2 linked regions of the Homo sapiens genome follow. The protein of the gene in region 1 interacts with the protein of each later gene in a pairwise test. Each region holds a gene or a part of one and is shown on either strand. Other genes may lie near its edges.

Region 1 (7,078 bases):
CCTCAGGGACCAAGGAAGTACATAGGGTTGTTTTCCTTTTCTTAAAATAGCCCCAGAATTATGTTTGCTTTTTATAGCTTTTTAAATCTCTCTTGTCACTTCTTGCTATTAATGGTGCTCCTGCCTCTGGCAGACTCTCCTCTTCATCCTCTTCTCAAGCTGAGTTTAGAAAATAGATAACCAAGCTTGTTAGAATTACATATGAAAAGAGGCCAGTCCATGAGTGAGAGAGCTTAAAGGATTCTTCAGTGAGGAAAGCAAAAGCACCCCCCTACACCCGCCAACCCCCCACATCACTGTACCCAAACTTCCTGACATCTTGCTTGGTTGCTGAGAAATTTCTAGTAGCTAAATCTCTTAGGCACTTTTCAAAAAGGTAAGGTTGCCAGCTAAGAGACCACCAAGTAATTGAGTTATTACAATATTCATTTTGTGCAATTCGCACTATAATATGACCCTAGGTCAATAATTAAAAGCTTAGCAAAAGCAAAATACAGACAAAATTATCCCATTATCCCGTGTCCAGAAACCTAAGTGAAAAAGACGATCTTAAATGGAGCTTAAATCTAGTTTCCTAACACTGACACATTGGTCTGAATTCTGAGCACCTACTAGGTGTGCGAGGCATTCAAAGGGGTGCAAAGATAAAGAAACTGTAGAATTAAAAAGAACTCAACAGTTCTTTAAAGATACAGTGACCATATGCATACATACTGATTCTAATCCTAAGTAATATTCACAGTGTTCCCTTGAAAGTCGCTTGACTAGTTAAGTAGAGAGCTGTGCGGTTACCAAAGGCAAGTCAGTGCAGCTCATCCTGTCTTTTAAGTAGTCTTTTCCATCTCTGAACAAGACTAAACTATGAACACTTTTACGCTCTATTAGGGAGATGGATCGCTTCAGACAAATGGCAGCACCTTACTTCCCTGAGCGCCCCAGGCTCCGATTCAGAAATTAAAAGGCAGGCACTTCCTCTCACCCGAACTTCCCTGAGGAATGGCAGCTGTGTGTCTGCCAGGCGCAGGGGCCAATCGGGACTCTGCCGGCCGCCTCCACCCACGACTTAAACACCATCTCACCAATTGCAACCGGATCGTGGGTGGGACTTCCGCTATCATTTTAGGCTTAACTACCACCATCTCCTCGCGGGCAGTGGGGGCAACCGCGAAGACAGAATTTCACAAACTTTCAGCTCCAGCAGTTTCAAGGAAATGTCAAATGACAAGATGGAAGACCGAGTGTCAAGAGCTAAGACAACAAAAAGGCCCCCAAAATTTGTTTTCAAGAAAACCAATGAAAAAAGCAAGCAATCAGAACGTGAAGTCCAGGATCATGGATGTGCTTATCTTCACAGTCACTGCTGGGTCCTGAAGTTCTCCTCTGGCCCAGTGCCAGCTGCGAAGCCCTCTGCCAAAGGGCCAGAGGAGGCCGGTGATATAGAGCTCTGATTACCCACCCGTCAGGGCACCGCTGAAGGTCACTGAATACTTACTGTGCACCCGAAAAATAAATCCTGCGAGTTCACGCCCGCGTAGTTCGCCCCCTGATTTTGAGCGACTCCTTTCGCATGGGATCTACAAAACCGAACTGCCTTAAAGACCTCTTTCACACGGACGTGAAGTCACAGAACTGACAAAATCCCATCCTGTCAAAGTGCACGGGTCTTTGAAATCTAACACAAAAAGCCATAGAAAGATTCTCTAAACACCCTGTACTAAGAGGAACACGGACAGGGCACTGCGTTCTGAAGTAGAGGCCAGGGCACTGGCCCTTAGACACGTCTCGCTGTCACCGGGCTAACAACATTGGCAAGGGCGGCGGCAGCAGCACTGATATTTGCAGCCCCCAAGGGCTCTGGCGAAACCCCCTCTATTACTCTGTATCCTGCCTGCTTCCAAGATGAACCTGTTGCTGGGAAAGAACAGGCTAAATTAGAAAAGGGAGTATTTTGTCAAAGTTGAAGGTGAGTGATAGCCTGCCCGCCTCAAATAGGATGGGAAAAACTAAGGATATTGGGGATGATGACACTGTCGCCTCCGAATTCTGGTCCGGGGCTCTCTCCCAGCCCTCAAGTGTCCCCACGCGGCCGCGGACCCCGAACAGGGACAGCTGGAGACGGGCTTGGGCAGCGCGCGGCCTGCACCCGCGGCCATCCATCTTGCAGCCCGGCCCGGCCAGGCTATCCCGGGCAAGGGCTGGGGGAACTCGCTGCCCCCAGCGCCGCCACGGCCGGGCGACATTCTGCGCCCTGGGAAGGGGGATAGGGGTGCGGCGCGGCCCCGGTCCCCGGCCCGCCCGGATCCCCGGCCTCACCTTGACGTGGAAGCGGATGAGCGCCAGGCGGATGCAGTGGGCCATGCAGACGGGCGGCAGGAACCAGACCTTTGGCGGCGGGGTGCCCTTGTTCTGGACATGGCTGACGATCTGCTGTGCCGTCTGGCGCTCGTTGCCCTGCCGCTTGACCCACTCGTGCAGCCGGGCCTTCTCGAGCGCGCCGTTGAAGAAGACGAAGAGCTCGATGTTGCCGCCGAAGCAGGCCTTGGCCAGCGCCGCCAGGTAGCCAAGCATGTGGTTCCACTGGCCGCCGCTGACCCAGTCGGTGTAGAAGCCGCCGTAGAGGCGGTGCAGGCAGTTGTCGGCGTCCACCAGCAGGCGCAGCGGGGTCTGCGGGGGCCGCTGCCGCCCGCCGCCCACCAGGCTGCCCCGGGCCAGCTTCTGCAGCTCCACCGGCACCACGGCGCTCGGGCAGTGCTTCTCGATGTAGTCCTGGAAGCCCTGCACGCCCATGGCGGCGGCGGGGGCGCGGGCGCGGGTGCGGGCGGGGGGCGGCGGGGCCGGGGGTGGTGGGGCCGTGGCGCGCGGGCGGGCTGGCGGGCGGGGGCGGCGGCCTCTAGGGGGGACTGGGGCGGGTCGGGGGCGCGCTCATGGCCGCCGCGGCCGCCATGTGCTGCCGCCTCCCAGGGCCATGTCTGGGGAGGGACCTGCCGCCGCCGCCGCTGCCGCCGCTGCGAGGCCGAGGCCGAGGCCGAGGCTGAGGGCCGGGGCGGGGCGGGCGGGCGGCGCTGACGTAGCGGACCCGCCCGGCGCGGACGCCGCCCAGGCCCGCCGGCTAGCAGGCGGAAGAGGCGGCGCCGGCGGGACGCGGCTCGGGGCTCCCGGAGGCGGCGGCGGAGGCGGAGGCCCGGAGTTGGGCCGGGACGGGATCCGGGAGGCTTCTGAGCCGGAGCAGGCAGCGCCTGGAGGCCAGAGGCCGTTCGCCCGCCTCAGGCCGGTCGGCCGCCGCTCCCCTCCCCTGCGCCCTGTTCCCGGCAGGGCCAGAGAGGCCGCCGCCTCCGCCCGGTGGTTCTCGGGCGAAGGGAAGCCGCGAAGCAGGTCCTGGGGAAGAGCTCGCCTGCTCCTGAGGGAAGCAGCGATAAGATGGCGCTTTGAAGGGGAGCCGAGGCCGAGTCACTCTGTTCGTCGGGACGCCGCCTTTCTAACGCCGCCGTCGGCTCGCACCACTCTGGGCCTGCTGCCCACACTGACTGCGGGGTCCGGGAGAGCGGGATGCTGGCCGGCCGCGCCTGGCTTCTTGGAAAGAGCAGGAAGGAGCGCGAGAATGCAGTTCCGCGGCAGGTGCTCATCCCAGCAGCTTCGGGCTCTCGGTTGTGGTTTTTACACCTATGACAAATGACATGGCCAAACACACCATAATGTCTGAAGGTACAGGTAGCCCTAAGCGCCTGCTCGTCACGGAAGAGACTGTCTTGAGAGCACAGGTCTGTTGCAGCGTGGGAAAGCCTGCGTTACCACTGCGCAATGGCTAGACTGAAACGTGCGCCTTTGCAGTGGATCTCCCAGCTCTTCTGAGGGAGAGGGATTTGAATCTTGTTGCTTTAGTAGCATCTTCTGGAAGGAGGTCGTTTACGTAAATTCTGTTCCAAAGCTCTGTCGTAACTGCTTCTAAAATGAGGTTGATACTGTATGTATATTAGGCTTGCATAAAACATTTTCAAAAAGAGATTAATGTCTTTCAGAATATAAATTTAGAAACCCAGCACTCTAAAAGTTTTAAAGTGCCGCTTTTACTTACCTTCATCTCTCCATTTGTTCTTTTTTTGGAGAAACCTCTGTAGAGGAGCAGGATGCAACCGACAGGCTGTGGCCGGACAGCTGCTGCCCAGCACATGGAGCCTGCACGCGCACGGTTTGGCCAAAGAAGCCCCCATACTCCCGGTGAAAAAGGCAAGTTGGATTTTTCTGCTTTCTTTTCTGATACCCACCTCAAATGCAAGCCAGTATCATACGTACATAAATTAAATGCTGCTGGTATTTTAGGAAGTTACATTTAAAAGCAGGCTGACAAGTTATGCCACTCACCTATGCATAAAATTAGTCACAAAGCCAGGATGACATGTTATCTAAAAATAATACAGGCCAGGTGCGGTGGCTCACGCCTGTAATCCCAGCATTTTGGGAGGCCGAGGCGGGTGAATCATTTGAGATCAGGAGTTCGAGACCAGCCTGGCCAACATGGTGAAACCCCGTCTCTACTAAAAATGCAAAAATTAGGCGGGCCTGGTGGTGTGTGCGCCTGTAATCCCAGCTACTTGGGAGGCTGAGGCAGGAGAATTGGTTGAACCCGGGAGGCGGAGGTTGCAGTCAGCGGAGATGGCACCACTGCACTCTCTAGCCTGGGCAAAAAGCGAGATTCCGTCTCAAAAATAAATAAATAAATAAAAGAAATAATACAGTTAGCCATTAAATAACGAGCAAAATCCAGAAATATCCAAATTTGCTTTTATAACCCAAGGCAGGTTCACAAGGTGAGGAGTAGTAGTTTTTAATCACTCGTATTTTCATTTGTAGCATTGCATTCCGTGTATTTACCTTTTCTTTAAACACTCTTGCTTTTAATTTTTAAAAATGCATTAGTGCGGCCGGGCGTGGTGGCTCACGCCTGTAATCCCAGCACGTTGGGAGGCCGAGGCGGGCAGATCACGAGGTCAAGAGATGGAGACCATCCTAGCCAACATGGTAAAACCCCATCTCTACTAAAAACACAAAAATTAGCCGAGCGTGGTGGTGCGCACCTGTAGTCCCAGCTACTCGGGAGGCTGAGGCAGGAGAATTGCTTGAACCTGGGAGGTGGAGGTTGCAGTGATCACGCCACTGCACTCCAGACTGGCAACAGAGCGAGGCTCCATCTCAAAAAAAAAAAAAAAAAAAAATGCCAGTGCCAGTATCTGGAATTCTGGAAATAAATTTATTTTCACCTTATTATATTGTAGAGGTCTAAGGTTCTGGAGTCAGGCCCCCAATATCCATCTTATGATAAGTCTGTGCCCTTGCAAAAATATTTACCTTATTGAACCTTGGATTTTATCATCTGTAAAATCAACATATTAATAGTACTTAACCTCCCAGGTTGTTATAAGGATTAAATCAGATAACCTGTGTGCCTGCCACACAACAAATGCTCAATAAATGTTGGCTTTTGTAGTTATTTCCAGAAACTGTATTTGTCTAGACTTATACTCGAGAACATAGACCAGTTATTGTACTTTTGGAAAGTTTAAAATTCATTATTGTATCATAACACATAAAACTCAATTCTTAGTTGCCCTATTTAGCTTTGTGTTCTTTAAAAAAAAAAAAAAAAAACTTTATTTATTGAGTAGCTATTGATGGTGGGCAAAATGTTTAGCTGACAAACACTTATATACTCTGCATCCTTAACTCAAATTCAGGGGTTGGTTGAAGTTAAATTGCTTAAATATTGAGGTAAAAATAAACATCTGGGCCGGGCGCAGTGGCTCACGCCTGTAATCCCAGCACTTTGGGAGGCTGAGGTGGGCGGATCACAAGGTCAGGAAATCCAGACCATCCTGGCTAACACGGTGAAACTCCGTCTCTACTAAAAAAAATACAAAAAAAAATTAGCCGGGCGTGGTGGCAGGCGCCTATAGTCCCAGCTACTCAGGAGGCTGAGGCAGGAGAATGGCGTGAACCCAGGAGGCGGAGCTTGCAGTGAGCCGAGATCACGCCACTGCATTCTAGCCTGGGCAACAGAGCGAGACTCCATCTTAAAAATAAAAAATAAAAAATAAACATCTGTATTTAAAATTTAATAAAAAGTTATGTCTTCTTGGAGGTTACAATATGACAACTAATGGTTGGGGACTTTTTCTTTTTTTATTTTGTATTTATTTTATTTATTTTTTCTCCCCCAAGATGGAGTCTTGCTCTGTTGCCCAGGCTGGAGTACAATGATGTGTTCTCAGCTCACTGCAACCTCCCTCTCCCAGGTTCAAGTGATCTCCTGCCTCAGCCTCTGGAGTAGCTGGGATTACAGGTACACACCATCACACCTGGCTAAGTTTTGTATTTTTAGTAGAGACGGGGTTTCACCATGTTGGCCAGGCCAGTCTCGAACTCCTGACTTCAAGTGATCCACTTGCCTCTGCCTCCCAAAGTGCAGGGATTACAGGCATGAGCTACCGCGCCCAGCCTAATATCATTAATTAATATTTTACTTAGGTGAGGTATCTAACCACCAACAATAACAGATGAGTTTCCAGTTTTTCAAACAAGGTAATAAGAGACCTTAATGCTGCCCATGTAATCATTAGCAGATGTTGGGAGACCAGCAGACTGGAGCTAAGCAGGGAGTCTGCGATCATGGAAGAGAGCAAATTAATCCACACTAGGGATTCTAACCTATAATGTTTACCTAGCACCAGCCCTGTTAATTAATTGTCAATTTAAATTACCCAGAAGAACACACACATCTGTAGGCCTGCTTCATAAATGGTAGATCAGTAACTGACCACACTGCAGCCGTGTATCGGCAGTTGAGTTTTTTGGTCTTCAGGCTCTGCTATCTCTCCAGTACTATGAGTTATCAGCAGTAGCAGAGGGTAGGAGAGCTCCACAGAGATCAATATTCGGACTCTGGAGACCATGACAAAATACATTTCATATTCCAAACTAATATATAAACTACCTTTTTTTTTTTCTTTTCAGATTTCCAGAAGCTGTTCTGTCAATAACAAAGTCTCAAAGAAAACCACAAAACCACCAACACTAAGATCATTCT
Region 2 (7,937 bases), on another chromosome or scaffold:
GGGTAAATTGTATGTTGTGGCAAGTGAATTCTATTTCAATAAAGCCGCTAAGCAAAAGTGACTGCAGGGCACTTGACAGCTGATAGCCACTTCCCCAGTAAAATAAAAATTAAAAAAGCAGAATGAGAGTTTCCAGGAGCCCCCAACTTAACAGCTGGTTACACGGCCAACTCCTGAGGACAAACAGGGAAAGTCTTCCCAAATATCTTAGCAGACACTGCCTTCAATTCACACAAGAGATAACTTTCTTCCGCTTTCCCTTGAATGATATTCATAGACTTCCTTGCCCCCAAATTCCGTTCTTCCCCTTGTGATGCAAAGGGGTACCACTCCCATTCCCCACAAACAAATCCAAATTACAGGTAACAGGTGGGTGGGGCATCTGGGTCAATTACAAGTAGCACAGGACAAACCCTCTGATGTCGTCAGAATTCTAGTGAGCTCAACTGCAATGTTTACCTCCAGGGGAGCGTTTTAATGCTCTCCTTTTGTACAGCCCAGTGTGTTCAGGTGCAGGAAAAAAAATCAATTGTTTCAACTGAAAGAGAAGGACATGCCCCACAATTAATCCCAAACGGAATGCCAGAAACAAAAGCAGAACTAAAGGCTGCCCCAGGTTTGCTGTTTTATGCTCGCTACAGTTAAAAGGATTCACAAGAAAATGATTACCTTTCACACCCAGCCAACCCCCCGATCCGCGCTGTCACGCTCATGGCTCACTGCTCCACAGAGATCTTTACCGAGTCTCCCCGACAGGCTGGACGTCAGATTACAGACAGCGTATACAGTCGACTCACACATGGATCTAGGTTTCCTTTATGTTTAAAAGGAATAAAAATCTAACTGCCACCCCCATTTCACAGCTGCGGAAGCAGAAAGGTCTACAGGGCATGAAAACTACAAGGAGGTGGGGCCTCCGCAGCTCAGACTCCCTTCTTCAGGAGAACTCTCCTCTCTCCCTCCCTCCCTTCGCAAAATGTAAACAAAACTGAAAAAAACACCCATACGTGCACACCTGTTCTCCTCACACCCCACCTTCTATTTTAAGGAATATGGGGTTAGAATGAGTCAAATGTTTTTTGCTTCCATTAGGGGCTAAAAGAAAGCCCAAGTGGGTGGTCTACCCACGAGAGTGACTCAATCGACTACCACGTAAGCCCCCCATGCAAGGACAGGGTCTGAGCTCACTCTGGATGAGCAAGGAGTGGTTCCCCCAGTTCTGAAACACCAGCATATGCCAAGGGACACCTGTGCCAAGGTAAGCCTCGGAGCTTCTTCCTGTCGGAGCATTCAGGAAAACAAACCTGAGCGAGAGGTCAGGCACAAAGCAAGCCTAAGGTGAAAGCAACCTGAAATCCAGAGGGTGATGAGGACATTCCCCAGGACCCCGGTGCAACACGCGCCACCCCCCCAGCCCCTCTCCCACCCCAGGCAAGCAGCGCCCAGGACCAGGAAATGCATGCCCGATACTTCTCCCAACCCAAGCCCCCATTTAAAATACCTAAGTAACCTTCTCTAAACATCCACATCATTAAAAATAAGTTTCCAACGTGGCAGACTCGTTTATGTAAAGCCATTATTGCTGTCTTATTGGAAGAACAAAACTCAAACCCAACTTTTCCAAGGCAAGAGTTGTGAAGTTATGTAACAGGTCGGTTTCAGCAACAGGCGATGCAAGAAAAAACAAAATACAACCTGCTTCCTGAATGATCTTAATAGCCAGCCAATATGTGCTCCTCCATGGGAGGCAAAAATTCTTCTCTGCCTCAACCTTCCGCTGGCCAGCGCCCCTATGCATGGGGAAAGTCGAACCTACGCTCCGTGACTGTGAAAGGTGGGGTGCCCAGATGGCTGCGACCACAGATGGGAGGTGGGACAGGCGGCCAGACCCACCAATGGGGAGACCGGGCAGGACCCCCGGACCAGGCCAGAGACAGGATTAGGGCAGGTCACCCTGGATACTCCCGGAAAGGGACTGAGGGAAGTCACTCAAGCTCCGGCCTGAGCAAGACCCGGCCCAGGTCGTAGGAGAACTCGAGGCAGAATACCGAGACCTGCGAAAGAGGGACCAGGGCAGGTCACCCTAGCCCGGATGGAATGGAAGAACTCAGATAAGTCAGGGGGCAGGTTACTCCAGGCCAGACTGATTGTGGGACACAAGGCAGGTCAGCCCGGGCCCAGGAGGGGGAGCAAACCCAGCTGGCGTAAAGGAACAGGGTCAGGTTAGCTCGGTCCCGAACGAAGTGGAGGACTCGAGGCAAGTCTGCCCGGCCCAGGAGTTGGGGGCCGAAGGAACTCAGCCAGGTCGCGGCCGGAGCGGGGGACCCGGGGCAGATCAGGCCAGGCCCGGGCAGATTGCAGGACCTGGGGCAGGTAAGCTCAGGCCGAGCCAGAGTAGGGGACCCGGGGCAGATCGCCCCAGGCCCGGCCGCGATGGGGGACTCCGGCCAAACACAGGCCGGGCCCGAGGCGAGTTCGGGGCAGGTCTCAGGCGCCGAGGCCGGGCCCGGGCTTCCGGCACCGCCATGTGCCGCTCACCTGCGCGTCGAGCTGTCCCGCCGCAGCGCCCGCGCCCGCGCCGCCCGGGCCTCCCGCGCCGCCACCGCCCGGGCCGCCGGGGCCGCCGGGGGGCGTCTGCGTCTGGCTAGGAAGAGTAAAGTCGGTGAACTCGAACTCGGAGCCCTGTGTGTCGGCGCCAAGCAGCTCGGCCTCCTCCGTGTCCAGGAAAGTGAGAGTCTGCGAGCTGGGCCCGTACGCCTCCACGCTCATGGTGCCTCCGGGTAGGGCCCTCGGGCCGGTTCCGCGCTGCACTCGAGCCCGCCGCCGCGCTGAGGCCTAGGCCGCAGGCCTCGGGTCGCTGCCGCTGTCGCCCCCGCGCGCCCGGAAAGGACCAAACCGCGCGCCCCGGCGCCAGCCGGACCGAGAGGTAACAGTGCCGAGCCGCCGCCGCTGCCGCCGAGCCCCTCCGCGCCTCAGCTCCCCTCGAAGCCGCCAGCCGCTCGCAGCCTAGAGCAGGAACTGCCGCCACCGCCGCCGTCGCCGTGCGCGTGCGCGAGCCCGACGCCGGCGGAAGCGCGCGCGCTCTTCGCGGGCGCCTGGTGCCCAGCAGGAAGACGGGACGCGCACCGCGCACGCGCAGGGGGTGGGGCTTTCAACCGCCGCTGCGGCGGCAGCTCGAGGACTTGGTCCCGCCCCAACTGCTAATTGGGGACGCCCGGGCGGCTGGCGGTGTGGACTTGGTGGTCTGCACCTGTGGTCGCTGCGACGGTGTTTCGGTTTAATTGAGCGCTAGCCGAATACCCTACATAGGTGGTCTCGGAACGCCCAACTGGAGAGACTGGGCAGGGACGGTGCGCTCCCACTCCTGGCAAAAGCTGCTTGGAACTCAGTTTCCCCATCTGTAAAATGGAGGGTGCCTCGCACATAGTAGATGCTCCCTGTGCATTGGTTTAAAAAGGGAGTGGGGCTCGGCGCGGTGGTCACACCTGTAATCCCAACACTCAGAGGCTGAGGCGGGAGAACTGCTTGAACTCAGGAGTTCGAGACCAGCCTGGGAGACAGAGTGAGACTCCATCTCTACAAAAAATATAAAAATTAGGCCGAGCGCGGTGGCTCACGCCTGTAATCCCAGCACTTTGGGAGGCCGAGGCGGGTGGATCATGACGTCAGGAGATCGAGACCATCCTGGCTAACATGGTGAAACCCCGTCTCCACTAAAAATACAAAAAATTAGCCAGGCGTGGTGGCACGAGCCTGTAGTCCCAGCTACTCAGGAGGCTGAGGCAGGAGAATCGCTTGAACCCAGGAGGCGGAGGTTGCAGTGAGCCAAGATTGTGCCACTGCACACCAGCCTGGGCAACAGAGTGAGACTCTGTCTCAAAAAAAAAAAAAAAAATTAGCTAAGCGTGGTGGTTCGCACCTGTAGTCCCAGCTACTAGGGAGGCTGAGGTGGGAGGATCGCTTGACCCTGGGAAGTTGAGGCTGCAGTAAGCCGAGATTGCACCACTGCACTCCAGCCTGGGTGACAGAGCGAGACCCTGTCTCAAAAATAAGTAAAAATAAATGAATGGGGATAGTCTTACGTACTGGGCCTGGCACTTGGAAATGATGGTTGCTGCTGTTCCTGATGCCTCTGCCACTGTTATTATACCATTACTATTTTTGCTATGATTATTATTTAGTGGACGTATACAGCAAAACAACTGGAAGCACATGGTCTGTGGTGGACTCTAGACCTGACCACTTACCAGCTGTGTGAAATTATACAAGTGACTTAACCTCTCTGAGCCTAGGGTTTCTGTTGCCATTAAGGTGGCATAGGAAGCCTGGGCAAGGTGGCTCTTTCCTGAAATCCCAGCACTTTAGGAGGTAGAGGCAAGAGAATCACTTGAGCTCAGGAGTTTGAGGCTGCGGTGAGCTATGATTGTGCCACTGCACTCCAGCCTGGGTGACAGAGATCCTATGTGTGTGTGTGTATATTAATATATATTTATTTATGTTAATATAAATAGAGTGACTAGTAGCTCATTTATTCCTCTCATACTCTCATGTGATATATGGTTGCTGCTGATATATATGGAGCCCGGTGCGGTGTGTCACGCCTGTAATCCCAGCACTTTCGGAGGCCAAAAGAGCAAGACCTTGTATAAAAATAAATTTTAAAAACTCTGATAGGTGTTACTAAATTGATCTGAAATTTGTCTACAAATTCCACTGGATGTGTTCCAAAGAGAGCTTTGCATGATATTAAAATTATCTGTTGGTCTGTCAGTATTCCCCCTTAAACTGTGCCTTCTTGGAGAGGGAGACCTACTTTTATTCATTGTTTATATTCCTACAGTTTAGTGCATGCTAGGAGCCCCCCCCGAAATGTTATTTTTATTTTTTATTTTTTGTAGAGATGGGGGTTTTGCTGTTTCCTAGGCTGGTCTTGTACTCCTGACCTCAAGTAATCGTCCCACCTCAATCTTCCAAAGAGCTGTGATTATAGGTATGAGCCACTATGTCTTGTCCCTGAAAAAGAGTGAAGAAGGCTGTGGCTCACACCTGTAATCCCAGCACTTTGGGAGGCAGAGGCAGGTGGATCACCCAAGGTCAGGAGTTCGAGACCAGCCTGGCCAACGTGGTGAAACCCCGTCTCTACTAAAAATACAAAAATTAGCCGGGTATGGTGCGTGCCTGTAATCCTAGCTACTTGGGAGGCTGAGGCAGGAGAACTGCTTGAACCCAGGAGGCGGAGGCTGCAGTGAGCCAACATTGCACCACTGCACTCCAGCCTGGGTGACAGAGCGAGACTCCGTCTCAAAAAAAAAGTGTATATATATATATATATATATATATATATATATATATATATATACATATATATATATGTATATATATATATGATGTATATTATATATCTCACTGTATATATGAGAGGAATAAATGAGCTACTAGTCACTTTATTATATATATAGAGAGAGTGCGCGTATATACATATATATACACACTGTATATATAAGAATAAGTGAGCTACTAGTCACTCTATTATATATAGAGACAGAGATAGACAGTGCGTGTATATACATATATATACACACTGTATATATAAGAATAAATGAGCTACTAGTCACTCTATTATATATAGATAGGGAGTGTGTGTGTGTATATATATATACACTCTATCTCTCTCTCTCTGTGTGTATATATATATATATATATATATGAGAGGAATAAATGAGCTACCAGTCACTCTCTTAATGCATAGTTCCATAAGGACAGGGTGTTGGCCTTGTTCATTATGATCTTCCCCACGGAGAGAATGATGCCTCATACAGTAGGTGCTCAATAAAAAGTTTTCTGACACTTTAAATCCAAGGTAAGCTACTGGTTTATGGGCCTTAATTTCCTAACCCCAGGCGTTCGCTTCCTCTCTGGTAAAGTATCTTGGAAAACACCCTCATTTCCCTTTCTGTCCCAAGATTCTGCTGCTCTTTAAATAAGTCAGCTGAAAGAGCTCCTAGCTTGCACAGCTGAACTAAAAGTTCCCAGTTTGCCGTGGTTCCTTATTTCCAATTTGCCTGTTTATCATCACAGGGACAGAGGTTCTGTTCTCCTTCTTCACATTTTTTTTTTTTTCCCTGAGACGGAGTTACACTCAGTCGCCCAGGCTGGAGTACAATGGCACAATCTTGGCTCACTGCAACCTCCACCTCCTGGGTTCAAGCAATTTTCCTGTCTCAGCCTCCCAAGTAGCTGGGATTACAGGCACCTGCCACCATGCCCGGCTAATTTTTTTGTATTTTTAGGAGAAATGGGGTTTCACCATGTTGGCCAGGCTGGTCTCGAACTCCTGACCTCGGGTGATCCACCTGCCTCTGCCTCCCAAAGTGCTAGGATTACAGGTGTGAGCCACAGCCTTCTTCACTCTTTTTCAGGGACAAGACATAGTGGCTCATACCTATAATCACAGCTCTTTGGAAGATTGAGGTGGGACGATTACTTGAGGTCAGGAGTACAAGACCAGCCTAGGAAACAGCAAAACCCCCATCTCTACAGAAAATAAAAATAACATTTCAGGGGGGCTCCTAGCATGCACTAAACTGTAGGAATATAAACAATGAATAAAAGTAGGTCTCCCTCTCCAAGAAGGCACAGTTTAAGGGGGAATACTGACAGACCAACAGATAATTTTAATATCATGCAAAGCTCTCTTTGGAACACATCCAGTGGAATTTGTAGACAAATTTCAGATCAATTTAGTAACACCTATCAGAGTTTTTAAAATTTATTTTTAGACAAGGTCTTGCTCTGTCACCCAGACTGGGGTGCAGTGGTGTGACCCAGCTCACTGCAGTCTCAACCTTCTGGGCTCAAGGGATCCTCCCACCTCAGCCTCATGAGTAGCAGGGACTACAGGCACACACCACCACACACAGCTATCTTTTAAATTGTTTATTTGTAGAGACAGTGTCTTACTATGTTGCTCAGGCTGGTCTCAGTCTCCTAAGCTCAAGCGATCCTCCCTCCTCAGCCTCCCAAAGTGCTGGGATTACAGGCGTGAGCCACCACACCCAGCCCACCTTTCAGAGTTTTAATTGCCCCTCTCCCACTTTGACCCACCTACTCCATTTCTAAAGATCTCTTCTTATTTCCTGTATACACTCACAATTGCAAAGTGACATTGGGATGGTACATTAGAATACATCTATTTAAAGAAAAAGACCAAAAAAAAAAAAAAACCACATCTATTTAACAAAAAAGAAGTCAGTAGTGGAGGAATTGAACAAAAAAGACATAAGATGTATAGAAAAATAGGAGGCCAGGTGCGGTGCCTCACACCTGTAATCCCAGCACTTTGAGAGGCTGAGGCAGGTGGGCAGGTGGATCCCTTGAGGTCAGGAGTTTGAGACTAACCTAGCCAACGTGGTGAAACCCCATCTCTATGAAAAATACAAAAATTAGCCAGGCATGGTAGCACACACCCGTAATCCTGGCTACTCGGGAGGCTGAGGCACGAGAATCACTTGAACCCGGGAGGCAGAGGTTGCAGTGAGCCGAGATCACGCCACTGCACTCCAGCCTGGGTGACAGAGTGAGACTCCGTCTCAAAAAAAAGAAAAAGAAACATCAGAAAATGGCAGAAATAAGTGCTCATCAGCAATTACATTAAATGTAAATGGATTAAACTCTACCTAAAATGCAGAGTGTGTCAGAATGGATTTAAAAAGAAATCAAGGCTGGTCACTGTGGATCACGCCTATAATCCCAGCAGCTTGGGAGGCCAAGGTAGGAGGAGGAGTGTTTGAGTAAAGGAGTTTGAGACTAGCCTGGGCAATAGAGTGAGACCCTGTCTCAAAAAAAAAGTGTTGTTTTTTTTTTTTGTACAGACAGGGTCTCACTCTATTGTGGGTGCTGGAGCACAATGTTGCAATCTCTGCCTACTGCAACCTCGA

What was found. The genes of interacting proteins can lie anywhere in the genome.
Region 2: the proteins of FAM120A (region 1) and UPF1 interact in binary tests that used the Homo sapiens proteins (3 or more experiments, as listed by UniProt).

Annotation. Positions count from the first base shown.
Region 1 is NC_000009.12:93,447,625-93,454,702, reverse strand, and holds the start of FAM120A (constitutive coactivator of PPAR-gamma-like protein 1), read right to left. Parts: upstream 3,019-7,078; 5' UTR 2,788-3,018; coding exon 2,314-2,787; coding exon of another isoform or gene 1,994-2,313; exon of another isoform or gene 1,102-1,993; intron 1-1,101. Other genes in the region: uncharacterized protein FAM120AOS, read left to right, coding at 1,994-2,556, 4,104-4,224, 7,006-7,078. UniProt on the Homo sapiens protein: Component of the oxidative stress-induced survival signaling. May regulate the activation of SRC family protein kinases. May act as a scaffolding protein enabling SRC family protein kinases to phosphorylate and activate PI3-kinase.
Region 2 is NC_000019.10:18,827,042-18,834,978, reverse strand, and holds the start of UPF1 (regulator of nonsense transcripts 1), read right to left. Parts: upstream 3,021-7,937; 5' UTR 2,770-3,020; coding exon 2,539-2,769; intron 1,306-2,538; exon of another isoform or gene 1,291-1,305; coding exon of another isoform or gene 1,189-1,290; intron 1-1,188. UniProt on the Homo sapiens protein: RNA-dependent helicase required for nonsense-mediated decay (NMD) of aberrant mRNAs containing premature stop codons and modulates the expression level of normal mRNAs.